Homo sapiens: one gene and its partners. The protein of the gene in region 1 interacts with the protein of each later gene in a pairwise test. Each region holds a gene or a part of one and is shown in the gene's direction. Other genes may lie near its edges. The genes, in order: ADORA2A, POMZP3, CHN1, SLC25A39 and SLC4A1AP.

Region 1 (4,989 bases):
GAGTGTAGTCTGGTCTTGCCAGAATCAAAACTGTTAAACAGAAGTCATCCCTCAGTGATCATCAAGGTTGCCTTCCTAAATTAGGGAGACTTTTTTTTTTTATTGTCCATTCTTTCATGAAATCTAGGCCACCTTTCCTACAGGGCTGAGGTCTGCTTACTGGCTGGCAGATCCAGCCATTTCCCGAGTATGAGACTGGGAGTCGGTAGGCTTGGATTTCTGTCTGGCTCTCACTCAGGAAGACTGAGTGATTTCGGGCAGATTACTGTCCCCCTGGACCTCAGTATTTCCTTGCAAATGTTAAGATGGCCATGTAAATGTTAACAAGTAATTCTCTCATTTCTCTCCAGAGGGCTGTGGGTGGGTTTGGAGGGGAGAAATGGCATCTCCTTTGGCCTGGGACCTCCTCCCCTCTTTTACCCTCCATGCTGCCTCTCCTCAAGGGCTTCTGGAGTCCCCAAGTCAAATGGCAAATGGGGAAGAGAAGACAGGGTATGGAGTACAAGAGGCCTAGATCCTCTATAGGTCTGATCTGGCTGGTGCTGCCCCTAGCCAGTAAAGCCACCCTCCAGACCCCTTCAAGCCTGTTGTAGCCTTAACCAAGATCAACCAACATGGAGGTGACTGATCTTGGTTAAGGCTGCGACCAACATGGAGGTAATTGATCTTGGTTAAGGCTACGACACGTTTCCCTTTAGAGAAAAATCATGTTTTCCCCCTCAAAAAATCATGCGTTAATTTCCTCCAACCAAACTAAGTCCCAGGACTACTCCGAAAACTACTCAATGACCATCTGGGCATTTGTACATGGGTTTCCATTTCTTGGATGCCTGCTCTCCTGTTACCTCCCAGAAGCCTGTGAAAAAGGCAAGGCATATTACTTCCACTTAACGGAAGAGGATGCTGGGGCGAGGTGGCAGGAAATGACTGGTCCAAGACCTTACAGTCAGGAAATGTGGAAACGGGTGCTGCTCTGGGGTTCTGAACTCTTGGCCCTGCTTAACCCTGGCTTCTCAGATCTCTGATGCTGGTCTCTTCTCCCCAGGTACAATGGCTTGGTGACCGGCACGAGGGCTAAGGGCATCATTGCCATCTGCTGGGTGCTGTCGTTTGCCATCGGCCTGACTCCCATGCTAGGTTGGAACAACTGCGGTCAGCCAAAGGAGGGCAAGAACCACTCCCAGGGCTGCGGGGAGGGCCAAGTGGCCTGTCTCTTTGAGGATGTGGTCCCCATGAACTACATGGTGTACTTCAACTTCTTTGCCTGTGTGCTGGTGCCCCTGCTGCTCATGCTGGGTGTCTATTTGCGGATCTTCCTGGCGGCGCGACGACAGCTGAAGCAGATGGAGAGCCAGCCTCTGCCGGGGGAGCGGGCACGGTCCACACTGCAGAAGGAGGTCCATGCTGCCAAGTCACTGGCCATCATTGTGGGGCTCTTTGCCCTCTGCTGGCTGCCCCTACACATCATCAACTGCTTCACTTTCTTCTGCCCCGACTGCAGCCACGCCCCTCTCTGGCTCATGTACCTGGCCATCGTCCTCTCCCACACCAATTCGGTTGTGAATCCCTTCATCTACGCCTACCGTATCCGCGAGTTCCGCCAGACCTTCCGCAAGATCATTCGCAGCCACGTCCTGAGGCAGCAAGAACCTTTCAAGGCAGCTGGCACCAGTGCCCGGGTCTTGGCAGCTCATGGCAGTGACGGAGAGCAGGTCAGCCTCCGTCTCAACGGCCACCCGCCAGGAGTGTGGGCCAACGGCAGTGCTCCCCACCCTGAGCGGAGGCCCAATGGCTATGCCCTGGGGCTGGTGAGTGGAGGGAGTGCCCAAGAGTCCCAGGGGAACACGGGCCTCCCAGACGTGGAGCTCCTTAGCCATGAGCTCAAGGGAGTGTGCCCAGAGCCCCCTGGCCTAGATGACCCCCTGGCCCAGGATGGAGCAGGAGTGTCCTGATGATTCATGGAGTTTGCCCCTTCCTAAGGGAAGGAGATCTTTATCTTTCTGGTTGGCTTGACCAGTCACGTTGGGAGAAGAGAGAGAGTGCCAGGAGACCCTGAGGGCAGCCGGTTCCTACTTTGGACTGAGAGAAGGGAGCCCCAGGCTGGAGCAGCATGAGGCCCAGCAAGAAGGGCTTGGGTTCTGAGGAAGCAGATGTTTCATGCTGTGAGGCCTTGCACCAGGTGGGGGCCACAGCACCAGCAGCATCTTTGCTGGGCAGGGCCCAGCCCTCCACTGCAGAAGCATCTGGAAGCACCACCTTGTCTCCACAGAGCAGCTTGGGCACAGCAGACTGGCCTGGCCCTGAGACTGGGGAGTGGCTCCAACAGCCTCCTGCCACCCACACACCACTCTCCCTAGACTCTCCTAGGGTTCAGGAGCTGCTGGGCCCAGAGGTGACATTTGACTTTTTTCCAGGAAAAATGTAAGTGTGAGGAAACCCTTTTTATTTTATTACCTTTCACTCTCTGGCTGCTGGGTCTGCCGTCGGTCCTGCTGCTAACCTGGCACCAGAGCCTCTGCCCGGGGAGCCTCAGGCAGTCCTCTCCTGCTGTCACAGCTGCCATCCACTTCTCAGTCCCAGGGCCATCTCTTGGAGTGACAAAGCTGGGATCAAGGACAGGGAGTTGTAACAGAGCAGTGCCAGAGCATGGGCCCAGGTCCCAGGGGAGAGGTTGGGGCTGGCAGGCCACTGGCATGTGCTGAGTAGCGCAGAGCTACCCAGTGAGAGGCCTTGTCTAACTGCCTTTCCTTCTAAAGGGAATGTTTTTTTCTGAGATAAAATAAAAACGAGCCACATCGTGTTTTAAGCTTGTCCAAATGAGAATGGCGTCTGAGTTCGTTTCCTACTCCATAGCTAGGCCTGTGCACACATACAGGCATGTGTTGTGTATGAGAGAGTGTGTGCGTATGTGCAGACACCCTGCCTGCCCCGGGGGCCCTCCCCAGGGTCCTGTCCTCGAGGGGACAGGCTGCCTGGCTGCACCACAATCCAACCTGCATTTCTATGAGGGCCCACAGGGGCTATGGGAGAAGGGGCTTTCCCCAGCAACTCCCCCCCTCCTTATCTTCCTACATCTTTAAGGGAAGATCTCTTTGTATGTTACCTTCTCAGAACTGTGACCCGCCACCTGCCCTGCTGCACCCTTTAGCAGAGGTCACAGAGGTATCCGCAAACAGATCTGGGCAGGGGCTACACGGCCTTCCCCTAGAATCCCCCTCCTTCTGTTCTTAACAAAAGAAACCCAGAAGGAAGGGGTGTTTTTGCTCTGACCCCGGCCTTAGGGGCCTCCTGCCTGAGGAGGTGGTGCCATCTTTCTGTGATGGCGAAGTTTGAGGCCTGGAAGGCAGTTAGCAACCTGCCCCTGCCTGAGGTTGGTGGAGAGCTGTGATTGTCCCGGTTTGGTCTCACTCACTCTGGGACTCCCGGAAGGAGTGTAAGAATGTCAAGGGTAATCCTCACACAGCCCTGTGAGCCCTGTTTTACAGATGATTAACAAGCCCAGAGAGGTTACATGATTGCTCCAGGTCACACAGCTAGTAAGTGGCAGAAGTGAACTTAAAACTCAGGTCTGTCTGACTGTAAAATCCATGTTCATTGTTTCCATTAACTTAATGATGAACTATTTGAACCGAACCAAAAAGTACAAAATAACATCATTTCCTCAGCACTCTGCTTAAGAACTGAAACATTACAATGTTGCATCTGACCCCTGCCCATCATTACCCTGCATCCTAGGCCTGGAAACAACCACTTTCCTGAATTTCATTTCTTTCCATTGCACTTCTTCTTCTTCTTTTTTTTTTTTTCTTTGAGACGGTTTTCTTTTCTCGCTCTGTTGCCCAGGCTGGAGTGCAGAGCAGTGGCACGATCTTGGCTCACTGCAACCTCCGCCTCCCAGGTTCAAGTGAATCTCCTGCCTCATCCTCCCGAGTAGCTGGGACTACAGGCACTTGCCACCATGCCTGGCTAATTTTTTCTGTGTTTTTAGTAGAGATGGGGTTCCACCATGTTAGCCAGGCTGGTCTCAAACTCCTGACTTCATGATCCGCCTGTCTCGGCCTCCCAAAGTGCTGGGATTACAGGCGTGAGCCACCGCGCCCAGCCCTTTCCATTGCACTTCTTTACACTTTTAGTATATGGATGCCTGCAAAACTATCCCAAAACCAACAAAGGATTGTTTTAGCTATCTCACTGTTATATCCTCAGAGGTCCTCTAGACTGGCTGCACAGGAGAAATACCTAGGAAGCTTCAATCAGCACCAAAGCCTCAGTCCCTTGCCCCAGAGACACTGGATTAATTGGCTAGGGTAGATCAAGTAATTCCCCAGGGGGTTCTTATGGACAGCCAGGACAACCTATAAGGAGCCACTGATACAAATGCACTGAGTCCACCCCCTGTCCACACCAGCTTCCTCCCTCCTAGGATCTGCACTGGCTGTGGGCTGAGGGTGGAACAGTGGCTGGGGTATGCCTGAGAAGACCAAGAGCACAGAAGCTGCCAGTCCTCATGAGCAATTGGTGGGAAGAGGCCAGAAAGAGAACTACAAAGGTAGGGAAGAATGAAATCCCGTCTCTCCAGCCTTTTCTGAGACCTTGGGAACCAGACTTTGAGTACTGAGCTAGATGGGTGTAGGCTTTGGGGCTGGGAGAACAGGGCCAGGGGCTCAGCAAAGGCTTCTAGGTACAAATGGGCCCTAGTCCTCCCAGGGCCAGCTCCTGCCTAGTGGTAGAGCACAGGCCTCCTCATGTCCTCAGGAGCTTAGGGTCCCATGTCCACACCCACCCCATGTTGGTTCCCACCGTCAGCAGGCCTGAGTGTAAGCACATGGGCAGAGACCTGAACATATGCAGGCATCATTCCTCTGACGATAAGAGAATACATTTGTGCACATATAAACATGCTAGGGGGCAGAGCCCACCTCAACAGGAATAAGTGCCCACAGCAGCAGCATGAGGGAGATGTGAAGACTGGTGAAGGGCATGAGCAAC
Region 2 (6,604 bases), on another chromosome or scaffold:
TTGCGGGTTTATAGGATACATACTTCTTCACCCTTATTTTTTACTAGTTATTGCCAAATTGCTTTCCAAATTGTACTGTTTCATATATCCACAACGGCATGAGTTCTGTTTGTTTCACATCCATGCTAAGACTTGATCTTGTTAAATTAATTTTTCTAGTGTATAAATGAGTGCAAAATATTGTTAGTCTTTCCTAGATTACTAGTGAGGTTAAATGTATATGTGTATGTACGTATATGCACATATGTATATATTATTAGGTATTTGTGTTTCCCATTCGATAGCTTTTTTATATCAATTGTCCTTTTTAAAAGTTGGGTCATCTTTTTGTTATTGATTCTTTGGAGTTCTTTATAAATTCTACTTATGAATCCTCTTTTGGTTATATGTGTTACGTTGTTTTTCCCAGTCTTGGCTTGTCTTTTAGATGTGTATCTTGTCTTTTCCCATACAGAAGTGTTAACTTTTTGTGTGTGTGTGATCTCACTCTGTTGCCCAGGCTGGAGTGCAGTGGTGCGATCTCAGCTCAGTGCAACCTCTGCCTTCTGGGTTCAAGCGATTCTCCAGCCTCAGCCTCCTGAGTAGTACTACAGGCACATGCCACCACACCAGGCAAATTTTTGTGTTTTTTTTTAGTAGAGACTGGGTTTTACCATGTTGCCTAGGCTGGTCTCGAACTCCTGAGCTCAAAGCAATCCACCAGCCTCGCCTCCAAATGTGCTAGATTATGTGTAAGCCATCACTCCCGGCCCAGAAGTACTAACTTTTAATGTAGTCATATTTATCTATATTTCCTACATGACTTGTGCCCTTTGTGTATTCATCTCTTTACCTCTAAACACAGGAGTGCCCCGAGGGCTCAGGCTATGGACCTCTCTATTTACATTAATTCTCAGTCATCTTGCTTGGTTTCAGGACATCTGTACCCTGACGGCTTTTATGTGTAGCTCCTCCACTTAACTCCAGCCACACACAATAGTTCAAAGAGCCCCTACTGACCTAGACACTATGTTTCTTCTTCCCCTATTACCCAGGTTTCTTGAGTAGGGAGTCTGCAGTCACTGCCTCCATTTCTTCACCTTCCAGTCACTGTTCAACCCAGGGCAGCCTGGCTTTTGTCCCACTAGTCTACTGATACTGAGATTTTTTTCTTAAGCAACACAGTCCCCCCTCCGCCCCCCCCCCTTTTTTTTCAAATTAAGTCTTATGTGAAATCACAGTATATTAAATAGAAGAATTACTTTGGCACTGGGTTGGGGAGGATCTGGAACCCAAACTGCACCTTCTTCTCATCTCTCTGAGTTGCCCCAGAGGCATCTATACCTTTCCAACTTTTCTATCCCCAAAACACCCTAATCTCCAGCGATACTGAACAATTCCATCTCTGGACTTCTGCACAGTGCTCCTTCATCTTCCTTGAACCTGCCAGACCTCTCAGCTCCAGGAGCACTTCCCTGCCTTCCTTCCCCTTTATCACAACTTTTTTTTTTTTTTTTTTTTTTTTGAGATGGACTCGCTCTGTCGTCCAGGCTGGAGTGTGCAGTGGCATGATCTCGGCTCACTGCAACCTCCACCTCCCGGACTCAAGCAATTCTCCTGTCTCAGCCTCCCGAGTAGCTGGGACTACAGGCACGCGCCACCATGCCCAGCTAATTTTTGTATTTTTAGTAGAGACGGGGTTTCACCATATTGGTCAGGCCGGTCTTGAACTCCTGACCTCAGGTGATCCGCCCGCCTCCGCCTTCGAAGTGCTGGGAATACAGGCATGAGCCACTGCGTCTGGCCTCTTTTTTTGTTCCCGTTATCACACTGATAACATTGAATTGCAATCTTTTACTTACACATCTTCCTTACTAAACAGAGCTTATAAAGATCAGAGATCCTCTATTTTCCCCCTTAATCTCTTTAATGTATATAAACAATGGAATGAATAAATCAATGAATGAATGTCTGAGGAAACTTAACTACACCAAAGTGTATTGGCAGACTACCAGACTTTTTAAACAGCTTTATGAAGATATAATTCACAAACCATACAGTTCATAGGGTGGTGCAACCGCCAACACGATCTAATTTTAAACTATGTTTATGCTGCTACGAGAAAGCCTATACCCATAAGCAGTCATTTTCTATTCCCCACCCCCAAACCCACTCCTTAGCCCTAGGCAACCACTAATCTACTTTCTCAGACCGATAACTTTAGCATAGGTATAAATCGATCACAGAGCCTCAAAATCCACCCGATGTCTGGGCCATGATGTGAAATTTGGTAGGTAATCGTCCCACGTTATCAACTTGTAAAGTAGAAATGGAAGTGGGGGGGAAAACTCAGCCGCCAGTGGCGTTTGTGAAAAGCACCTGGTAACAGGCTGTGCTGGAGGGGAGTTCAGCCCCTAGAAAAGATCACGGATTAGGAATTACATAAGCATAGGTCTCGGGCCCTTTTATTTTGGACGCGATCCTTTCACGGGATCGCCTCCGGATGGGAGCCGGATGGGATCCCGGACGGGATCGTCTCGCTGGGAGCCATGCGGGAAACCGCAAGAGTCAGAAACAGGCGTTGAAGGCAGGCAGCATTTTCCAAAACAGCTGTGTCTCGGGAGCTGCCGGGCTGTAGCGTCTCCCCGAGTCGCGCGCGCATGACGTGGCGGGCGCGCGATGACGCGACGCGTGGCGCGGTGCACGCTGGGATATTTAAGTCTCCTCCGCGGCGCGGAGCCGCGATGTCTCCGGCGGCTGCGGCGGCTGGAGCAGGCGAGCGGCGGCGGCCGATAGCGAGTGTCAGGGCCGGCCGGGGCGGCGCTTCTCGGCCTGTCGCTGGTCGGCCTCCTACTGTACCTCGTGCCTGCTGCGGCTGCGCTGGCCTGGCTGGCCGTGGGGACTACCGCGGCCTGGTGGGGACTGAGCCGCGAGCCCCGAGGTTCGCGCCCCTTGTCCTCCTTCGTTCAGAAGGCGCGACATCGGCGAACACTGTTCGCTTCGCCTCCGGCCAAGTCGACAGCCAACGGAAACCTCCTAGAGCCGCGGACCCTGCTCGAAGGACCTGACCCTGCCGAACTGCTCCTCATGGGCAGTTACCTGGGCAAGCCCGGGCCGCCGCAGCCCGCCCCCGCTCCGGAGGGCCAGGACCTGCGGAATAGGCCTGGCCGCCGCCCGCCCGCCCGGCGCCGCGCTCCACACCGCCCTCCCCGCCGACCCATCGCGTTCACCACTTTTACCCCTCTCTCCCCACTCCTCTTCTCCGACCCTCCGGGAGGCCTTCCCCACGGTGAGATGCGCTGATTTTCCCAGATCATCCTTTGGCTCGGCTGGCTTGAAATCGAGGACTTTTAAATCCGATTTGCTTTTTCATCAAATCCGAAGGGAATTGTGTGTGGTTTTGCCCTCCTTAACACCTTGGTGTGTGCCAGCCGTCTCCTGGCCTCTGACTCTTGCTTGGTGTGAGATGTGTTGCCAAAACGATTCCCTTCTTTCCAGTTCTAAAAACTCCCCGAATTTTAGTGCAGTCTAGATTTAGTCTAGATTTAGATTTTCCCTCTCAAATTGTTGCAATCCATTGTTGAGACAGCTGTTAAGCAGCTGTCACTCTCTGCTCTTAGATGGAATAGGGGAAAGTTGCCATAAAAACAACGTGTTCTGTGTTGCGTAGAAAGAGACTTAAGTTCTTTGGAAAATGTCTTAACTGGTGGGTTTTTAACCGTCTAAAATTTTGACATTCTTTTATACTTTGTTTCCATGATTTGTCTCGCATTCTCTGCAGGGATCGTGGGACTTTACCAGATCGGTTTGTAATAACACCTCGAAGACGCTATCCGATCCATCAGGCCCAGTATTCCTGTCCGGGGGTACTTCCCACAGTGTGCTGGAATGGTTATCACAAGAAGGCTGTGCTGTCCCCTCGCAACTCCAGGATGGTGTGTAGCCCAGTGACTCTGAGGATCGCCCCTCCTGACAGAAGATTTTCGCGTTCTGCGATGTGAGTATTATCGTTGGAAGAATACTCTCCCTTTTCGTGTCCACTTTATTCTTCTCCAGTTGTTCCTATGACAACATGACTACAACGCAAAAAAGAAAGGACGAATCTGCTTGTTTGAATGAGAAATACCAAATTCTAGTAAAACCGTTTGTTTTTCACTTTTTGCCGTTAACGAAAAAGTAGCTTTACTTGCTAAGGGGAACTGTTGTGAGTGTATAAATTATACTTTGGCTTGTTGGTTAGCTTCTGATTTCCATTTCTGATATGGCATGGGAATTAAAATATCTTACTGCTAGAATCCTGTCTTTCATTATAGACCAGAGCAGATAATCAGCTCAACACTGTCCTCACCATCAAGTAATGCCCCAGACCCATGTGCAAAGGAGACTGTACTGAGTGCCCTCAAAGAGAAGAAGAAGAAAAGGACAGTGGAGGAAGAAGACCAAATATTCCTTGATGGCCAGGAAAATAAAAGAAGGTAACAGGCTCAGGAGAGTACTAAGCCAGTTTCCCGCTTGGACTCCTATGGGATGAGATGTAGACATTCCCGTAAAGATACAGAGGCCACCTCCAGTTTGTGAGCCTTCATAGGCCTCCTTCTTTGGCTTTCATGAAAGAACCTAATAACAGGGGTTTTAATGCTGATCATTTCAAGGCACAGGTTAGATCGATGTCATAATTTACCTTTTCTGTGAGTAGCAGAGATAAGCTGACAGCTATTAGCCATGTTAGCCTCATGCTTCTGTAGAAACGTGTTAAAAGTTTATTTTCAAGAAAGAAGGCTCTAAGTCTTCTGGTCGGAATTTTGTGGTGTTCAGTTATTTGGGTAACCACCAGTTCTAGTGTCTTTTTTTTTTTTTTTTTTTTGAGTTGGAGTCTGTCTCTGTCCCCCAGGCTGGAGTGCAGTGGCCCGATCTCAGCTCACTGCAAGCTCAGCCTCCCAGGTTCATGCCATTCTCCTGCCTCAGCCTCCCGAGTAGCTGGGACTACAGGCGCCCGCCACCATGCCCGGCTAATTTTTTTGTATTTTTAGTAGAGACAGGGTTTCACCATGTTGGCCAGGATGGTCTCGAACTCCTGACCTCGTGATCTGCCCGCCTTGGCCTCCCAAAGTGCTGGGATTACAGGCTTGAGCCACGGCGCCCGGCCCACCAGTTCTAGTGTCTTAATTGTGCTGAAGGAAATGCTTGGGAAAGAAAAATGAAAACTAGAGTTTGGTAGTTTTATCAGTAATGAGATTAAAACCAATTTCCTGGAAGGGCAAGGTGGCTCACGCCTATAATCCCAGCACCTTGAGAGGCCCAGGCAGGTGGATCACCTGAGGTCAGGAGTTCGAGACCAGCCTGGCCAACATGGTGAAACCCCGTCTCTACTAAAAATACAAAAATTAGCTGGATGTGGTGGTAGGTGCCTGTAGTCCCAGCTACTCCAGAGGCTGAGACAGGAGAATTGCTTGAACCCAGGAGGCGGAGGTTGCAGCGAGCCGAGACCATGCCAGTGCATGCTAGCCTGGGTGACAGAGCGAGACTGTCTGAAAAAAAAAAAAATTCCTTATGTGGTTTGTAAAATAACCTAATGAAAATGGAATAGTTTTCTAATTACAGAAAGAAAAGAAGTTGAAGTGGGTTTCGCCATGTTGAGCAGGCTGGTCTCGAACTCCTGACCTCAGGTGATCAGCTCGCCTCAGCCTCCCAAAGTGCTGGGATTACAGGCATGAGCCACCACGCCTGGCCGAAAATCTTATAAATAATCCCCTTCTAATTTCGGCCAGCTTAATCACACACCAAATTCCTTTCATGAGATTAATCTTCCACAACTTCTACACTTCCTTAAATCTTTGATTTTGTCCTATACTTTTTTTATATTAGCAATCTACTTTAGGACAGAAATTTACTTTCCTTTCCTCTTGATTTTGACCAAAGTCCTCTCTCATGCAAAATAAAAAATTACTCTTTTTTCAACTTTCTTTACCAAAAATACATCCTCATAACTTTTTTTCACGTCTCTCCTACTTACTGGCCTTCTTCCCACCTTGTTTCTATTTCCTTCCTAAATCCATATTTTGAAACAATCTTTAAATAACCCCCAACTTAAACAAAATTGCTCTTATTTAACAAAAAACTTATCTCAAAAAACCTAGCACGGTCACCAAGCGTGCTTTGCTTTTCTTTCTCTCTCTCTCTCTTTCTTTTTTTTTGGAGGCGGATTCTCGCTCTGTCAGCCATGCCGGAGTGTAAATGGCACGATCTTGGCTCACTGCAACCTCCGCCTCCCAGGTTTTGAGAGATTCTCCTGCCTCAGCCTGCTGAGTAGCTGGGATTACAGTTGCGTACCATCACAGCCAGCTAATTTTTGTATTTTTAGTAGAGATGGGGGTTTTGCCCTGTTGGCCAGGCTGGTCTGAAACTCCTGACCTCAGGTGATCCACCCACCTCAGCCTCCCAAAGTGTTGGGATTACAGGCATAAGCCACCGCACCAGGCTTGATCCCTTTTCTTGAACAACTTATATATCCCAAAGCAACACACCAGAATATTCATTTACAATGAGAATGAAACTATCCCCACAGGAGCAACAAGAACTGCATGCTGGGTTCTGGACAGAAATAGAGTTATAATTAAGCATTCAT
Region 3 (5,859 bases), on another chromosome or scaffold:
ATATAATCACACACATTGTCTAGGATATTACCTAGGAGTAGGATTTATATGTTGTAGGGTATGTATATATTCAACTTTAGTAAATAATACAAAACCCCTTTGTTAAACAATATTGCAGGTACTGGTTATATTAACTGCTCTGTATCCTTGCTGGTACTTAGTATTGTTAGGCTTGTTAAATTTTGCCAGTCTGAGGATTTATTTGCAATTACTGGACTATTTTGTGAGCACCAGTTCTTGGTGTAGGTCTGTTTTCATCCATTGTGTAAATGTGTGTTCTTCCATTATAATAAAATTTTTTGAGTTATCGCTTTGATTCCTTTCCCTTCCATTTTGTCTCTTCTCTCTTTCTATAAATGTTAGACTTTCAGGCCGGGCTCGGTGGCTCACGCCTGTAATCCCAGCACTTTGGGAGACCGAGGTGGGTGGATCACGAGGTCAGGAGATCGAGACCATCCTGGTTAACATGGTGAAACCCCGTCTCTACTAAAAAAATACAAAAAAATTAGGCAGGCATGGTGGCGGGTGCCTGTAGCTCCCAGCTACTCGGGAGGCTGAGGCAGGAGAATGGCGTGAACCTGGGAGGCGGAGCTTGCAGTGAGCTGAGATTGCACCACTGCACCCCAGCCTGGGCGACAGAGCGAGACTACGTCTAAAAAAAAAAAAAAAAAAAAAGAAGTTAGACTTTCTGGATTGATTCTCTATCTTAATTATTTTCTCTCCTTTTTTTTATCTTTTTGTCTTTTTGTTCTTTAAAATTTTCTCAACTTTTTTAAAAAAACTTTCATTTATGCTATATTCCTTTTTCTACTTATTTTTCTATATATTCTATATTCCTTTTTTTTACAGGATTCTAATGTTTTTTGGTTAAATTCTATTCAAGAATAGGAACAGGAAACATCTTATTTTGGGTTTTTTGAGCATATTTTCATTCCCATGCATGATTTTGTTTCCTCTAACTTGCTTTGATTCTGTTTGTTTATCATAGTCTTTGTCTTTCATGAGGGGAGTTTTCCTCAGATGTCAGGTGGCCCTTGGCTGACTGCTCATATTGAAGCATATGGGACCCTAAAAGGCTGGCTAGTAGTTCTGAGAGCTTGGAGGAAGCCTGACAATTATAGGATGATGGTCTCTACTCTTAAGTCTTTTTTTGTTGAGTTGATCAGATTTCCAAGAGTAGAATCTTTCAGTCTCCTATCAGGAAAGGTACAAGCCTTCCGATAGCCTCATGGTGAAGAGAAATGGAGGTATCAGTTTCTTTAGTATTTAAATTTTGGGTATTTAAAACTTTCACTTAGTTTTCAAGATGATACCTCTGCTTGTATTCCCTCAGTTCACTATCTCCCTGTTTTATCCTGCCTAGAAAACAGAACTTAAGTCTTCTGCCATGGTGGTGAAGGGATAACAATAGGGACAGGATTAGGGAGGGCAGGAGGAATATCTAACTGCTTTTTAAACGGACTTCGAGTTAATCCTTCTATATCAGTTCTACCTTCCAGAGCTATGTGAGTTCCACTGTTCAGAAGATGGCTTCTTTGGAAGTTTAGTTAGGCAAATTGGATTTCTTCTTCACTGAAAATGATTTATTTGGCCAAGGAAATATCATTATGTGTTGACATAATTTAATACTTTTCTCCATAATCCAAAATTGTATAGCAAGATAGACAAAAGTCATAGCCTGACAAAGTTTTGGATGGGATATCATTTTAATGTTGTATATAACTATGCTCTCTCTTCCATAGCCTTCCTTAGTTCATAGAATTCATCTAAATTTATTTTGTAGTACTTAATCGAATGCATCATCATATTTTATTTCTGTTTTAAATTTTCTTCCAAGAGTATCTTATGATTGAATGAATGTATATTTATATTTCACCATTAGATTAGCTTTTTTGACTCTGGTAAACAACAGACAAATATATATTTATGATAAATAAAACTGTTTTTGTATGTTGGTTGCTGGAAATACTTCTAACATTTTATTGTAAGCTTAGACGAGTGTGTTGTATATGTTTTGTTTTCTGTTTGTTAACACAAAACATCTGTTAGCTTGGAGCTTTCCTTTGAAGAGATCCTTTCAAATCACTTTGGCCTCAAATTAGAATTAATTCTTGGTTTTGCATAAAGTAAAGTAAAATTCCGAAAGCTATTCTGTATATATTTTGTCATCATTTTTTCTTCTAGACTGAATTTTTTGTCGATATGATTTATTTGCTGAAAAATAGAAAAGATGGTATATTAAGGATTTTGTTTATTTTTAAAAAGATGTTAGAATTGTATATCTTGAAATGCATCTGAATGCATCTGGGCACAGCATTAAACAGCTTTTTAAAATAGGAAACCCGAAACCTGGAATCACTGGAGAAAGATATTCTTTCTAGAAAGTGGCATTATGTACAACAGTAGCAGTTAAAAGCCTTTCTTTTCTATTTGTTTACTATAGTAACACTCTGGAGAAAATGAATTTTCATCTTGCTGAACTCTACCTAGGTGAGAGTTGGGCCTATGCAGCTTCAAGTATGTTCACCAAGGAATAAACAGCTATTAAGCAAGGGCAGAGTCAGATAATAAAAGGAAAAGATGAAAAGAAAATTATCTTATAAAAGTCAAAGGGAAATGATTTAGCCTCAACAGTTTTTACAAATCAATGCTCTGTAGTCTAGGGTTCAGTAGCTGTCACTAGGTCCACTTAATATGTCCCGCTTTCAATATATGTAAATCTCTCAGCTTTCTCCTTTGAATTCAGAGGCCTCATTCCCAGGACACAGTGGAAAGACCTTCTTTGCTTGCTCCTCCTACCCGATTTGCACTCTGTTGTCTTCCCACTCTATTTAACCAAGTGGCAAATACAAACTTATTCAGAGACATCCAGGAGAAAATTTCACAAAGAGCTCCTCCTTGCCTTTTGTTAACTGTAAAGTAAATCAGTGCAGAGATGTTCCTGTACAGCCAGTGTTGCCAGTTATTTATTTAGCCATCTTCCATGCATATCTATTGAATATTTTTGCTGTTTTACTTTAGTGTTGGTAACTCATTCTGTCATTCTCTGCAGGGGCCTAAGCTAACAGAGAAGGAGAAAGGGAACTACCACTCGAGCCTACTATATATATTTAGCTTTGACTTAAATATCTTCATGTAATCCTCACAGCCATCTGGGGTAGGGTGATGTTATTCCTATTTTTTAGATGCAGAATCTGACGAATGATTTCCCCAAAGTCACCCAGCTAGGAAGTGGCAGATCCAGGATTTAAACTTACAACTGTCTGATGCCAAAGCCTAAGGTTTTCTCTTAAACATATAGGACCCACATTTGCCTTCCCTTGGCCAAACCATATTTCAAGACTACAGGAGAAGACTGCAAGGATGCTTTTGTACTTGGACATAAGCAGTAGCTCTGAGATCTTATGTAAGCCTAATTGTTGTGCTCTGTTTTACTAGGCAGTGAGTTTCTTGGTTTTATGGTATGAGGGAGATACTGGATTCACTTGGTTTTGTGAATCACTTTACAGAATCTTTCTACATAAGAGCAAGATTCTATATGTATATAGTTATTAAAATAGATCAATCTGAAGACGGACTTTTTTTTTTTTTTTTGAGATGGAGTTTCACTCTTGTTGCCCAGGCTGGAGTGCAATGGTGCAATCTTGGCTCACCACAACCTCCACCTCCCAGATTCAAGCAATTCTCCTGCCTCAGCCTCCGGAGTAGCTAGGATTACAGGCATGCGCTACCACGCCCAGCTAATTTTGTATTTTTAGTAGAGACAGGTTTCTCCATGTTGGTTAGGCTGGTCTCAAACTCCCGACCTCAGGTGATCCGCCCGCCTCAGCCTCCCAAAGTGCTGTTATTACAGGCGTGAGCCACCGCACCCGGCAAGATAGACTTTTTTAAATTTAGCACTTTGTGTATTTGTATTGACCTGTTTTATCTTTTTACCACTGGGGTTACCAAGCGATAGGAACTCTATTGTGAACCACCTAATACTTGACAGTAAAGTACCTGGATGTTTTGTTAACTATTTGTTGAATAAATGACAGTCTGCAAGCAGTGAACTTCAAGGAAAGAGTCTTTCTTTGACCTTAGATTTGGAATCTCCCCCTTTATGGCTCTTCTTATGTAGAATGGGCACATCCATTCCCACCTTTCTCAAAGATTTTCTGTCTTCTTTCTCTTCTTCTAATCCCACAAAGCACAATATGCCTTTCAGATAAAGAAAGTGGAGAAATCTTTGACAGTCTGTGCTGTGGTGCTGTTCCTAGGTAACTTCCCAAGTAAAAGAGAGTAGTTCAGAGTAGGCCAGGAAAGCTTGGCAGTTCTCTTAGTAAAATATAATGCAGTTTTTCTTTAAAAAGATCAATCATAATTCCAAAATGGAAATTTTTTATTTTTACCCTTTGAAGCAAAGTTTTAATCAAACCATGTTATAAGTTTTTTGGTTATGTGATCATCTCCCTTTAGACTGAAAGTTTTATTGGATTGGAAGCCTGGAGCTGAAGTACAGGCGGAGCAGGAATTGGAAATTGTGGGCAGGGTCTCCTGAAATCACTGAGTTGAGAAAGAGAAAAGGATAAATAGGGTTTTTTGCACAGCTCCTTACAGGTAGCCAGGCCTCTTCTTGGATGAATTAGGCATCGTCCATTGGAAAGAACTAGGAAGTTAACTCTAGACTTCCTAGTTCCTAGTCAATCAAACCATTCCCAGTGCAGCCATCTTCCCTTCATGCCCTGTGCCCCCCATACTTCTCAGATTTCAAAAGGCAATTGAGTACTAAATGACTGACACCATTGCTTGGATTGTTTTTAAGTTCTGTATCCACTGTAGAAATGCCCACTGTAAAATCGTAAGTCCCAGCAGGAGTAAAATGGTCTGAGCCCTCATTGAAATGTGTCTGATACAACCGAAATATAAAGGGACTCAATGCTATGTGTGTTTATTATTGTAGGAGTCTTATAAAAGCTATGGAGTTGCTTTCCATGTTGCAGATAATGTATATTAGAAAAAAAGGAAATGATGAAAGCAGTATATTAAACTGAAAAACTTTTATATTTAACTTTGGTGTAGAAATTTCACCTGTCTAATTTTTTAGGCTTTATAATGAAAATATACTTGGGAGAAATGTGTCTTTAACATTAGAGGAAAATGGAGAACAAGAAAGTGTAATTATATGGATAGTTCACTTAAGTGTAAATCAAAATTTGATTGTTACTAAAGGATGGATAAATTATGCTTTAGAAGGGCCAACATGGATAGTACGTTGGATTCTAGATTAAATTGTTATTAAAGTCTAATTTGAACTACAGAAACAGACATCGTCTGGCTATTATTTTAAAAAATATTTTATTTCCTTTCCATACTTTATTTCCACATTAAGATGTTCCTAACTCCTATTCATTTGGAATATAACCTATACCAGAACAATTTTGTTATATAACAAGTTTATAGTCCCATTTAACGCTTTACTTAAACAGCGTTTATTTTAGTATTTTAGTTCATCCCTGTTCTGTTGTACTTTTAACAATGAAATTAAATATATCCTTTGTGACTTGTTTAGTTTTTAATTAGTCTCACTCGGGGTTACCTTCAGGAGACCATTACACTGGCAGCTCTTGTTGCCTTGTTGCCTTTTGACATCTGCTTTCATTAAAGTCAGTGCATTTTCTTGCCTGTGTCTTCCTGCAAGGACACTGATGTTAATCATGCCAAATTGGATCCATTTCTGAGGTCTGCTGCAGGAAGCAAAATACTGAAATTATCATAAAAGTAAACCATTATTCTTCAGTTGTTAGAGCACATCATCAGAACATAAAATTGAAAACAGAATTTCTATAGTCCAATAGCTTATGACTTTTGTGCCGTATG
Region 4 (6,458 bases), on another chromosome or scaffold:
TAACAACAATACAGTAACAGCAATAGTAGTAGTTGTCATAGAATGCTTGCCACTTGCCAGGGTTCTAAGCACGTCACAGCCATTAATGCATTAAATCCTTACATAATCCCTAGAGGAAGGTGCGTTATCATCACCATCAGCCCATTTTGTAAATGGGGAAACTAAGGCTTAGAGGCCTTAAGACACTTGCTTGTAAGAGGCAGGTGAGATGGAAAGCCAGGTCAGGGTGCTGCTGGAACACAGCACCTGGGTTGAGAACTGGACAGGGTGGGAGCCCATCTGGCTCAGGCACGTTGGGGGGTCTAATGCTGACTCTTTCATTTGAGTGACCTTGGGGCGATTTGACCTTTGGGGCCCCCCTTTTCTCATCCATAAAACGGGAGAGTGTGTGCAGGGAAAGTCTGGGTTCTCCTCCACACGAGTAAAGTCACTACACACAAGAGCCCTCAGTTTCCTCCCCTGTTCCGTAAACCAAAACGTCTAAGTTGTAAAGAACCTTGGCGGAGAGTAGGCTTTCACCTTGACCGATAGTTTATTTATTTATTTATTTATTTATTATTTTTTGAGACAGAGTCTCCCTCTGTCATCCAGGTTGGAGTGCAGTGGTGTGATCTCGGCTCACTGCAGCCTCGACCTCGCGGGCTCAAGCGATTCTCTGGCCTCAGCCTCCCAAGTAGCTGAGACTACAGGTGCGCACCACCACCGCTGGCTAATTTTTGTATTTTTAGTAGAGACGGGGCTTCGTCATGTTGGTCAGGCTGGTCTCGAACTCCTGTCCTCAGGTGATCCGCCCACCTCGGCCTCCCAAACTGCTGGGATTACAGGCGTGAGCCCGACCTTGACTGATAGTTGATTAAATTATTTCGTGTCATTTCTGAACTCAGCTTGAGATGGGAAGGGAATGGAAAGGACGCCTTCTCTCGGGCCCTTTTGCCCAGCGCCCCTTTACAGGTCACAGATTGCACTCTCCCTGCTCCCAAGCTGGAGTTTCAGAGCTGTGGGGGAGCTCAAAGGCATTTTGTCAGGGAAAGCTGATAGTTGGCCCCTCGGAGTCCACGTGCTAACCCGGCAGGCGCCGGCTGACTGGGCTCCTCCAGCGCCGGACGCGACCAGTGGGGGCCTGAAGGGCGGGGAAGGCAGAGACGTCAAAGTCGAGGCCTACCCTTCTTAAAGGCGCAGGCTAGGAGTACCCATCTCCCCGCCCGCCCCCCCCCGCCTCCACCCGCCCGCCCGCCCCCCTCCGCCACCGCCCGCGCGTGCTGGTTTCTCTGTTAGGACAAATAAGCAAGATAGCACAGAAGTTCTAAACGCGAAGTGGGTGGTGGGGCCTGGGGTACGGGGCTGCCCCGGGAAATAAAGTGTCTCCCTGACAAGCGGGATCGGAGAGGGCAGCGCTGGACTTAAGCCTTCCTGTCTCCCGGGGAGGCAGTGTGGAGCCCTGGGAAAAGCACCCGGCCGGTTCGAATCTCCGGCTCTTCACGTCGAGCCTCAGTTTCACTTTCTGTAAAACGGGGTAATCTATTTCTTTTTCAGACGGAGTTTCGCTCTTGTTGCCCAGGCTGGAGTGCAATGGCGCAGTCTCGGCTCACCGCAACCTCCGCCTTCCGGGTTTAAGCGATTCTCCTGCCTCAGCCTCTCGAGTGGCTGGGATTACTGGCATGCGCCACCACGCCCGGCTAATTTTTTGTATTTTTAGTAGAGACGAGGTTTCACCATGTTGGTCAGGCTGCTCTCGAACTCCTGACCTCTGGTGATCCGCCCGCCTCGGCCTCCAAAAAGGCTGGGATTACAGGCGTAAGCCACTGCGCCCGGCCTTTTTTTTTGAGACGGAGTGTTACTCTGTTGCCCAGGCTGGAATGCAGTGGTGCGATCTCGGCTCACTGCAACCTCCGCCGGCCGGGTTCAAGCGATTCTCCTGCCTCAGCCTCCCGAGTAGCTGGGATTACAGGCGCCAGCCATCATGCCCGGCTACTTTTGTATTTTTAGTAGAGACGGGGTTTCACCATGTTGGCCAGGCTGGTCTCGAACTCCTGACTTCAAGTGATCCGCCCGCCTCGGCCTCCTAAAGTGCTGGATTACAGGCGTGAGCCACCGCGCCCGGCCTGTGGTAATCTATTTCAACAATAACCTACTGCAAAGAGTTTTGAGACTCAGAAGAAATCACGATACGAGAGCAACCAACACCAAAACGTCGATGCCCTCCCGCACTCAGTGCTCTTCCTCTCCGCGCAGAGTCATTCCGGGCCTTAGGCGAGGTTGTGATTTGCCCAAGGTCACGCGAAGGTGGGATCTGGCTCCCCATGGCTCTCCCGTCTCCCCCGGCTTGCTCACGTCCCAGCCCGCCCGGCCCGGGCTGCAGCTCAGCTAACCCAGTGGCGCACACCCGCGCGGGGCCCTGTGGTTTACAAAGCGTTTTGCAGTTGCAGGCCTGTCCTGTAACCTGAAAAATGGGGGCGATGCTAAGGCCGGCGAGAGAAGTCGCCGCGAAGTTTTCAAGTCTCGGCGGGTAGCCCGGCAAGTAACTTCGTCGTTATTGTGTGGTCTCCCGGCGATCTCGAAGAACTCATTCTCACTGCCGCCGCCACGCACCTGAGGACACCGAGGAAGAGGGCCAGTGCGTCACCCTCGCCGTCCAGAAGGCGCTGGGGTTTCCAGTGCCGCGCGCGGCCGGGGCGGGGCTGGTGAAAATGCGCTGTTAAGGCCGGCGCGGCGGCTCACGCCTGGAATCCCAGCACTTTCGAAGACCGAGGTGGGCGGATCGCTTGAGCCCAGGAGTTCCAGACTAGCCTGGGCAAAATAGGGAGACAAAAATAAAAGTAACAAACCAGCCGGGCGTGGCGGCGCGCGCCTGTGGTCCCAGCTACTCCGGAGGCTGAGGCAGGAGGATCGCTTGAACCCGGGAGGTCAAGGCTGCAGTGAGCCTAGATCGCGCCACTGCCCTCCAGCCTCGGCGACAGAGCGAGGCTGAAAAAGATGCTGTCTAAAAAAAGATGCTGGAAGTGCGTGCTGCTGCCACGTTAAGCGCGACGTGGAGACCGCGAAGTTGGCCGGCAGCTCTCAGCGCTGGACAGGCATGGAACTCGCCCGCGCGGCCCCGTCAAGGGGGCGGGACCGTCGCAGGTCCGGGCGGAGACGCGAGTGGGCGGAGCCGGGGACACTCCGGGCTTGCGGCTGGTCGGCCCGCGGCGGGCGGGGCCTCGTGGCGCGGTGTAGGGGCGGGGCCCCCTTGGCTGCTTTCGGCGTCGGCCTAGGTGCGCTGCGAGCGCGCGCGGACCGCGCACAGGCGGCGGAGCCGGTATGGGCCCGCCTGACCCTGGGCGCCGCGCCGCACGAGCACCAGCCTAGAGCCAGGTAGGCGGCACTGGGCCGGGGCTGGGGGCGGAGACGGAAGCGGGGGTCTCCGGGCGGCCGTGCGAGCCAGGGCAGGTGCTGGGGCCGTCGAGCTGGCGTGGTCCCCCTCACCTGGCGGCTCTCCGCCGTTCGGGGCCGGGAGTGTCGCCGAGGGTCGGGGAGACGTCCTGGTCCTACGTTCCTACTTCCCGCTCTCCCGGCTGCGCCCCGGGCCTGCATTTTGGGGCGGGAACCCAGAGACTGCTCTTTCTCTCCGGGCCCCGGGTCTGGCCCGTCCGGCCGGGCGGGGAGGGCCGGGCATCCCAGCCCGCAGTCCTGAGGAGGCGACGGGCCCTTCTTGGTCACCGGATCTGTTTACACGTCACCCTCGATGCCCGGCCGTCCCTCCACGCCCAGTAACTTGGGCTCTCAGGTGCCTGCCCGGGGCCTTGGTGCTGGAGTGGGGGCTGTGGGGGCAGCACAGGTACTCTGATTTTGGGGCCACGAGGGCCAAATCCGCGCCTGCACGTAGGAGGTGCGCAGTGGACACGTGCGAGGTGGACGAGGGAAGGACCCTGGCTCCTACTGCATTCGAGCGATAGGTCTGGCACCCTAGCTTCCTTCGGAACCACTCCTGAGTGACCTTGGGCAGGCCACCTCGTCTCCCCGAGCCTTAGTTTTCCCCGGCGGAGGGGGGCGGACAGTCCCTGCTTTAGAGGTCATTGCCAGGGTTGTTGAGGCAACAGATGTTTCGAGGGCGGTGGATGAGGGTTGGGTTAAAGTCTCACAGTGGGCCGGGTGCGGTGGCTCACGCCTGTAATCCCAGTGCTTTGGGAGGCTGAGGCGGGCGGATCACGAGGTCAGGAGATCGAGATCATCTTGGCCAACATGGTGAAACCCTGTCTCTACTAAAAATGCAAAAATTAACTAGGCGTGGTGGTGCGCGCCTGTAGTCCCAGCTACTTGGGAGGCTGAAGCAAGAGAACCGCTTGAACGGGGGTGGATGTTGCAGTGAGCCAAGATGGTGCCACTGCACTCCAGCCTGGCAACAGTGCGCAGAGCGAGACGCCGTCTCAAAACAAAAGTCTCACAGTGGCCCAGCCTCCTTTCCTGCCATCCCTGGAGTTGTGGTCTGTTTGAGGTTTGGTTTTCAGGACTGAAGCTTCAAGATGGCTGACCAGGACCCTGCGGGCATCAGCCCCCTCCAGCAAATGGTGGCCTCAGGCACCGGGGCTGTGGTTACCTCTCTCTTCAGTAAGACCTAGGGGAGGTGGGGTGGGGGCGGGTGGGGATGGGGCAGACCGGAGATTGGAGGCTGTGTGGTCCTGGGGGAGGAGTCCTAGGGGTGGGGTCCTGAAAGGAGCCTTCAGACCCGCTTCCTCCCCCAGTGACACCCCTGGACGTGGTGAAGGTTCGCCTGCAGTCTCAGCGGCCCTCCATGGCCAGCGGTGAGTACCTGACCTGGAACTAGTGAGGGGTGGTGCCTGGGCAAAAGAAAGATCTCCCAGAGGCTGGCCGTGGTTTCTCATACCTGTAATCCCAGCGCTTTGGGAGGCTGAGGTGGGTGGATCACCTGAGATCAGGAGTTCAAGGCCAGCCTGGCCAACGTGGTGAAACTCTCTCACTACTAAAACTACAAAAATTAGCCGGGCTTGGTGGCATGCGCCTGTAGTCCCAGCTACCTGGGAGGCTGAGGCAGGAGAATCGCTTGAACCGGGAAGGTGGAGGTTGCAGTGAGCTGAGATTGTGCCACTATGCTCCAGGGTGGGCGACAGAGCAAGACTCCATCTCAAAAAATAAAATAAAAAGATCTCCCAGAGATGGGGTCCCTAGGGCGGGTGGGGGCTCTCCTGACTTGAGGGGCTGCCTTGTATTTTAGAGCTGATGCCTTCCTCCAGACTGTGGAGCCTCTCCTATACCAAATGTGAGTGCCCCAAGCCACAGGGAGCATGGGAGGGTGCAAGGGGGAGACAGTCCTTGTCCCTGTCCCCAGGGCACCAGTGGGCTCCACAGCCATGGACTAGCATATACTCCCAGGTCCTGCCAGCCAGTCCTGTGACCTGCACCAGAACATCCACACAGGGACCTGGCCTTTACTGGCCTTCCAGGGATAGGGGCCCACTGCCTCCCTGCAAGGTTCTAGGATCCTGTCATTATAATGCCCCCTGCCTTTCCCCAGTGCCCTCCTCTCTCCAATCCACAGGGAAGTGCCTCCTGTATTGCAATGGTGTCCTGGAGCCTCTGTACCTGTGCCCAAATGGTGCCCGCTGTGCCACCTGGTTTCAAGACCCTACCCGCTTCACTGGCACCATGGTGAGGAGCAGCTGGGTCCGTAGGGATTCGTCGGTGTCCGTGAGGAGTTCGGTCTGGCTGGGCAGCAGACCCAGGAGTAAAGGGATTGGGCAAGGCACGCAGAGGTAGCCGGTTCCGTCAGGAAGTGCTTCCGGAGAAGGCAGTACCTCCATGGGGTGTTTGTTTTCTTTTAGACAGAGTCTCGCTCTGTCACCCAGGCTGGAGTGCGGTGGTGTGATCTCAGCTCACTGCAACCTCTGTCTCCTGGGTTCAAGTGGTTCTCCTGTCTCAGCCTCCGAAGTAGCTGGGATTACAAGCGTGCACCACCACCTGCCGCTAATTTTTGTATTTTTAGTAGAGACAGGGTTTTGCCGTGTTGGCCAGGCTGGTCTCGAACTCCTGCCTCAAGTGATTTATCCGCCTTGGCCTCCCAAAGTGCTGGCTGGGATTACATATGTGAGCCACCGTGCCTGGCCTCCATAAGGTTTTTGAAGGGTGACCAGGTGTCCGCCTGGACCCAGCTGCTGGGGTACTGCATGTGTAGAGGCAGGGAGGCCTGAGGGCTGTGGGCAGAGGCTGAGGGCGTCAGGCAAAGGCCTAGCCTGGGCCAGCCCCATCACAGACATCACTTGTGTCCCTCCTCTTCCCCTGGGCTGGTGCCTGCTTGGCCAGGATGCCTTCGTGAAGATCGTGAGGCACGAGGGCACCAGGACCCTCTGGAGCGGCCTCCCCGCCACCCTGTGAGTAGCCGGGTCCTGCACCACTCTCCTCTGGTACTTCCTGACCCTTTGCTCCCTGTTGAATGGCTAGGTGGGGCAGGTGATGCTTTAAAAGTT
Region 5 (5,859 bases), on another chromosome or scaffold:
AAGAAAAAAGAAGCAATGATCCAGTGCTCATTGGAAGCTTGTCGGATTCTTGACACTTTGGGATTGCTTCGGCAGGAAGCAGGTCAGTATATAGGAGCCCTTTTTTTCTAGATTTAAAAAAAGGAAAACTCAACACAAACGCTAATAAAACTTCTTTATGGGGGGAAAATGTAAATTGTACAAAATTTTTTGAAGTGAAAAGAGAAAAATTCTCAATACCCTAAGGTAGCCACTGTTTATATTCTCCCAGACATTTTCTATGCATATATAGATGTGTGCTGAGACCTAGATCCTTTAACAAAAAACACTCATACACAAATGTAGTCATATTAATTACAATCTTTTGTGACTTACTTTTTTAACATAAGAATGTATCATGGATGTTGTTATTATTATTATTTTTGAGATGGAGTCTCACTCTGTCACCCAGGCTGGAGTGCAGCAGCATGATCTCGGCTCACTGCAACTTCCGTCTCCCAGGTTCAAGCCATCCTCCTGCCTCAGCTTCCCTAGTAGCTGGGTCTATAGGTTGCACCACCCTGCACAACTAATTTTTGTATTTATTTATTTATTTTGAGATGGAGTTTCACTCTTGTTGCCCAGGCTAGAGTGCAATGGCGCAATCTCACCTCACTGCAACCTCTGCCTCCCGGGTTCAAGCGATTCTCCTGCCTCAGCCTCCCAAGTAGCTGGGATTACAGGCATGCACCACCATGCCTGGCTCATTTTGTATTTTTAGTAGAGACGGGGTTTCTCCATGTTGGTTAGGCTGGTCTCGAACTCCCAACCTCAGGTGATCCACCTGCCTCGGCCTCCCAAAGTGCTGGGATTACAGGCATGAGCCACCGCACCTGGCCAATTTTTGTATTTTTGATAGAGACGAGGTTTCACCGTGTTGACCAGGCTGGTCTCGAACTCCTGACCTCAGGTGATCCACCCGCCTTGGCCTCCCAAAGTGCTGGGATTACAGGCATGAGCCACTGCGCCTGGCCGTATCACGAATATTACATCAATACATTAATATGTATCAATACATTAATTGTGTATTTTGCTTTTTTTTTTTTAAAGTCTGAGTAGAGCATCATTTATTAATAAGGCTTATATTATATTTTTATTATTGCAAAGTAACTTATGTCTGGTTCAAAACTACCAAAAGGCTTATAATAAAATATACTTGTTCCTTGCCCTACCCATCCTCAGTCTTCTTCCCTAAAGGCTTTCAGTTTTTTCAGTTATTTATTCTGGCATTTAAAAACACCTGTATTTCTTGGCCGGGCGCGGTTGCTCACGCCTGTAATCCCAGCACTTTGGGAGGCCAAGGCAGGCGGATCACGAGGTCAGGAGATCGAGACCATCCTGGCTAACACGGTGAAACCCCGTCTCTACCAAAAATACAAAAAAAAAAATCAGTTGGGTGTGGTGGCAGGTGCCTGTAGTCCCGGCCACTTGGGAGGCTGAGGCAGGAGAATGGCGTGAACCCAGGAGGCAGAGTTTTCATTGAGCCGAGATCGCGCCACTGCACTGCAGCCTGGGTGACAGAGCAAGACTCCGTCTCAAAAATAAATAATTAATTAAATTTAAAAAAAAACAACAAACACCTGTATTTCTTTTCTTTTCTTTTTTTTTTTTTTTTTTTGAGATGGAGTCTCACTCTGTCACCCAGACTGGAGTGCAGTGGCATGATCTTGGCTCACTGCAACCTCTGCTTCTCGGGTTCAAGTGATTCTTCTGCCTCAGCCTCCTGAGTAGCTGGGACTATAGGTGCGTGCTCCACACCCAGCTAATTTTTGTATTTTTAGTAGAGACAGGGTTTTACCATATTGGCCAGGCTGGTGTCGAACTCCTGACCTCATGATCCGCCTGCCTTGGCCTCCCAAAGTGCTGGGATTACAGGCGTGAGCCACTGCGCCCAGCCTAAAAACACCTGTATTTCTAAGAACAAGAGTATGGTGTTATATTTTTAGTCACTTATTTTAGACGTTACCTGTCGACTCTGCTAAATTAGTATTTAGTATTTACGTGATTATGCTTATGCAAATATTAGTTATAACTGAGCAGTTTTATTTCTTTTTGTTTTTCCTAAGGGTAATAATTGCGTTTGCTTTTCATGTGTTTGGGGCTTTTTTGTATTTCTTGCTCATTCCTCCCACACCTTTCAGTAGCCTCACCACATCAAACAACTTAATGATTAAGTAATTTATCAGTTCTGATTTGTTTTGGAGACACTTTTTCTGAAGAGCACTATTTTTCTTTCAGGGCTTATTGCTCTGCAGATCTGCTACAGAACTGTCACCTGGGACTTAACTTTCCTATCATCCTTAAGATTTCTTTGTCCTTTCTCCAGGGTTGACTTTTCTGTTTCTTGATTCTCATATTCTCATATTTCTTGGTTTATTTCCTTGCACAGTAGTACATCCTTCTGTACTTTTAGCAGATTAAAAAGCTGGTACAACACTAGAGGGCATGGGTGATGATAGTCTTCAATGAATTTCACATCTTTCCTTTTCTTGGTCTACTCTCTTGTTTTGGTGGACATCCTCTAGTAGATTTCAGAGAAAGAGTGTATAGGAAATAAATTTTATTAATCCTTCTCTTCTGAAAATATAATTATTGTAGCTTCACTCCTGATTAATAGTTTGGCTGGGAATACAATTCTAAGTTGGAAACAATTTTTCTTATTTTACATTCAGTGTTGCTTTTGAGAAATCCTAAACTGTTCAGATTTTGATCCTATTGTATGTCATCTTTTTTTTCCGCCTTGCCAGAGCTTGTAAGAGTTTCCCTTTGTTCTAAAGGTTCTAAAACTATGAAGTACTTTTCTGTGGGTCTATTTTTCTTCATTTTTCTGGGTACTTGTTGGATCCTTTTGATCTAGAAACCTTGGCTGTTCAGGAAGTTTTCTGCAATTATGTCATTAATTGTTTCGTCCCTCTGTTTTCTATGGAATTTTATTATTCAGACATTGGACCTCTTGGACAGACCATTTAAGTTTTTTTTCTTCTTTTTTTCATCTGTATGTCTTTTCCTTCTTGAGAGATTTCTGCACCTTTATCTTTCTGTCTTCTCTATTTTGCCATCAAGGTTTTAATTTCTTTCTCTTTTTTTAAAGTTTTTAAAATCAGGCAGTCTTTCATGCCAGAGAAGGCTCAGAGACTCCAAGGTTTTAATTTCTAAAAGTTCATTTTTGGTTTTTGAATTGTCCTTTTTAAAACATAATATCCTCTTGTTTCATGGGTTGTAAATATCTCCTCTCTGTTTTCTCCATGTTATTTTTCTTTTTATGTGGTCTCTGTTCTGCATGTTAAAGGCTTTTCTTAGGTGTCATGTAATTCTTCATTGTAGTTTTTTTATTTGGGGATGAAAAAGGTGATTGACAGTTTGGAATATATAGGTGGGGTTTCTGCATGGAATATATAGGTGGGGTTTGTTGACTTTGAGCAGTACTATTGAATGATGTGGGTGGGCCTTTTGTTGGGGAACCCTTGATTTAAGTATCCTTTTGGTTTTCCTCGTCTGTGAGCGAGATTCCCCAGAGAGTGCTCTTCCAATCTCCTGCCTGAAACGAAAGGACTGGCTGCCAGCATTCCTAGAGCTAAGTGGTAGAAGGTGGCTGAGTGGCTTCTCATTCAGCTGTTTTCAGGACAGTACTATTTTTAGATTATAGTGCCCATGCCTTCAACTTTACTAGTCAACTCGTAATCCAAAGGCTTTCTGTTTTACCCTTTCCAGAGATTAACCTCTGGATTTCTACTGCAGATGGAAAGGAGATGAGTAGGCAGGGAGGAAGATCTATTTCTCAACCAGTTTTTACTTAGTCCTCCATAACCTTAGTATCCATCCCCAGTTGCAGATCCGTTTGAGGATTCTGCAGTGTAATCACTTTGGCTCTCAGCTTTCCCCACTGTTTAGGATTTATCTTTTTAAATTCTGCTAAGTTAGTTTCTACTCATCTGTCTACTTTCTAATTTTCTAAAATTTGGGTCTTTATGAATTTCTTTCTCTCTCTCTCTCTCTCTCTCTTTCTTTTCTTTCTTTCTTTCTTTTTCTTTTCCTCCTTTCCCTCCCTTCTCTTTTTTCCTTTCCTTTCCCTTACTTTCCCTCCCTCCCTCCCTCCCTCCCTCCCTCCCTCCCTCCCTCCCTTCCTTCCTTCCTTCCTTCTTTCCTTCCTCCCTTCCTTCCTTCTCTTTCCTCTATGCTGCCCAGATTGGAGTGCAGTGGTCTGATCACAGCTCACTGCAGCATCAACTTCCGGGGCTCAAGCGATCCTCCCGCCTCAGCCTCCTAAGTAGCTGGGACTACAGGTGCACACCACCATGCCCAGCTACTTTTTTTAGATTTATTTTTAGTAAAGGCAAGGTCTTGCTATGTTGCCCAGGCGTGGGTACATCTCTTTACTATGGTTTATTGGGATTTAGGGAAAGAGGGAAATTAGATATGTGTGTTTAATGTACCATCTTAACCTGCAAATTAGGCTTATATTAATAAGGACTATTTTCCTTGCAAATAATAGAAGTCCAATTCAAACTAGCTTAGGGGAAAGGTCATTGGCTGCAGAAGCTGGGAAGAATAGCTCAGGATGAAGGAACAGGAGTGAAGGAACAACTGCATGAACCAGAACCTCAAGTTCTGAAACCATAACTTAGTACTACCAAAGTAGACTCAGCATCACCAGGACATATACAAGTTGTGTGTGTGTGTGTGTGTGTGTGTGTGTGTGTGTGTGTGTCTGTGAGTGAGTCTGTCTCACGAGTGCATTTTTAAACTTTGCAGACAGATTCTTACCCTGTGCTGAAAAGCTGATTGCTTACAGCCCTGAACTTAACAGTCTCTCACTTTAATAACCTCATTGTAAAGAGAGCCTCTTTGCCCCATCTCTAAATATAAATATGAGGGAAAGAGTCTTACTGATTTGGCTTTGGTCCTATGACTATCCCTAAACCAGATAAAATGGGGGAGGAATTTTCTAGGGGAAAGAGGTACTTTTATCAGAACAAAGGGAGTAGAATGTTGTAGGGTGAACAAAAAAGTAATAGCTGTCATAGTTTCTTATTGATGGACTCTTTACATATTCACTGTTATAAATACTATTGCATTGATATTTATAGAATAAATTCCTAGAAGTGGAATTGCTGGATCAATGCATTTTTAATGGCAGATATTGTAGGCTTGACCATCAAAAAGGTTGTATCAATGTACATTCCCACCAATTATTAATCTTTTTATGTTTTTCTAGTCTAATAGATGAGAAGTATCTAATTTTTAAATTTGTACTTTATTTTTTTTTAAAGTAACATATTTAAAAATATTTATTGTATTTTTCTGTGAACTGCTTTCATTATCCTTTTTCAAATTTTCTTTTGGGTTATTGTCCTTTTTCTCATTTTTCATTTTCCTTTTTTCCTCATTGATTTTTTTTTTTTTTTGAGATAGAGTTTCACTCTTGTCACCCAGGCTGGAGTGCAGTGGCGCTTTCTCGGCTCACTGCAACCTCTATCTCCCAGGTTCAAGCAATTCTCCTGCCTTAGCCTCCTGAGTAGCTGGGATTACAGGCACCCGCCACTATGCCCATCTAATTTTTGTATTTTTAGTAGAGACGGGGTTTCACCATGTTGGTGAGGCTGGTCTTGACCTCAGGCGATCCATCCCCCTTCAGCCTCCCAAAGTGCTGGGATTACCATGCCTGGCCATCCTCATTGATTTTTAAAAGCCGTTTGCTCATTAAATAAATTAACTATTTGCTTTAATGAAAAATTATTTAATAAGAAATTGTGGGAAAATATACATAACAGAAAAGTGTACCATTTTAAGCATTTTAAGAGTATCACTCAGTGGCATTAAGTACATTCACAATATTATGGA

The links.
Region 2: the proteins of ADORA2A (region 1) and POMZP3 interact in a two-hybrid assay, tested with the Homo sapiens proteins (one large-scale study listed by BioGRID and IntAct).
Region 3: the proteins of ADORA2A (region 1) and CHN1 interact in a two-hybrid assay, tested with the Homo sapiens proteins (one large-scale study listed by BioGRID and IntAct).
Region 4: the proteins of ADORA2A (region 1) and SLC25A39 interact in a two-hybrid assay, tested with the Homo sapiens proteins (one large-scale study listed by BioGRID and IntAct).
Region 5: the proteins of ADORA2A (region 1) and SLC4A1AP interact in a two-hybrid assay, tested with the Homo sapiens proteins (one large-scale study listed by BioGRID and IntAct).

Annotation. Positions count from the first base shown.
Region 1 is NC_000022.11:24,439,538-24,444,526, forward strand, and holds the end of ADORA2A (adenosine receptor A2a), read left to right. Parts: exon of another isoform or gene 1-30; intron 31-1,045; coding exon 1,046-1,952; 3' UTR 1,953-2,820; downstream 2,821-4,989. UniProt on the Homo sapiens protein: Receptor for adenosine. The activity of this receptor is mediated by G proteins which activate adenylyl cyclase.
Region 2 is NC_000007.14:76,623,372-76,629,975, reverse strand, and holds the start of POMZP3 (POM121 and ZP3 fusion protein), read left to right. Parts: upstream 1-2,696; 5' UTR 2,697-3,268; exon of another isoform or gene 3,269-3,760; 5' UTR 3,761-3,911; coding exon 3,912-3,976; exon of another isoform or gene 3,977-4,055; intron 4,056-4,292; coding exon 4,293-4,454; intron 4,455-6,604.
Region 3 is NC_000002.12:174,878,782-174,884,640, reverse strand, and holds part of CHN1 (N-chimaerin), read left to right. Parts: intron 1-5,859. UniProt on the Homo sapiens protein: GTPase-activating protein for p21-rac and a phorbol ester receptor. Involved in the assembly of neuronal locomotor circuits as a direct effector of EPHA4 in axon guidance.
Region 4 is NC_000017.11:44,321,604-44,328,061, reverse strand, and holds the start of SLC25A39 (mitochondrial glutathione transporter SLC25A39), read left to right. Parts: upstream 1-3,238; 5' UTR 3,239-3,351; exon of another isoform or gene 3,352-4,484; 5' UTR 4,485-4,499; coding exon 4,500-4,584; intron 4,585-4,718; coding exon 4,719-4,778; intron 4,779-5,209; coding exon 5,210-5,254; intron 5,255-5,509; coding exon 5,510-5,643; intron 5,644-6,294; coding exon 6,295-6,362; intron 6,363-6,458. UniProt on the Homo sapiens protein: Mitochondrial transporter required for glutathione import into mitochondria. Glutathione, which plays key roles in oxidative metabolism, is produced exclusively in the cytosol and is imported in many organelles.
Region 5 is NC_000002.12:27,669,306-27,675,164, forward strand, and holds part of SLC4A1AP (kanadaptin), read left to right. Parts: coding exon 1-82; intron 83-5,859.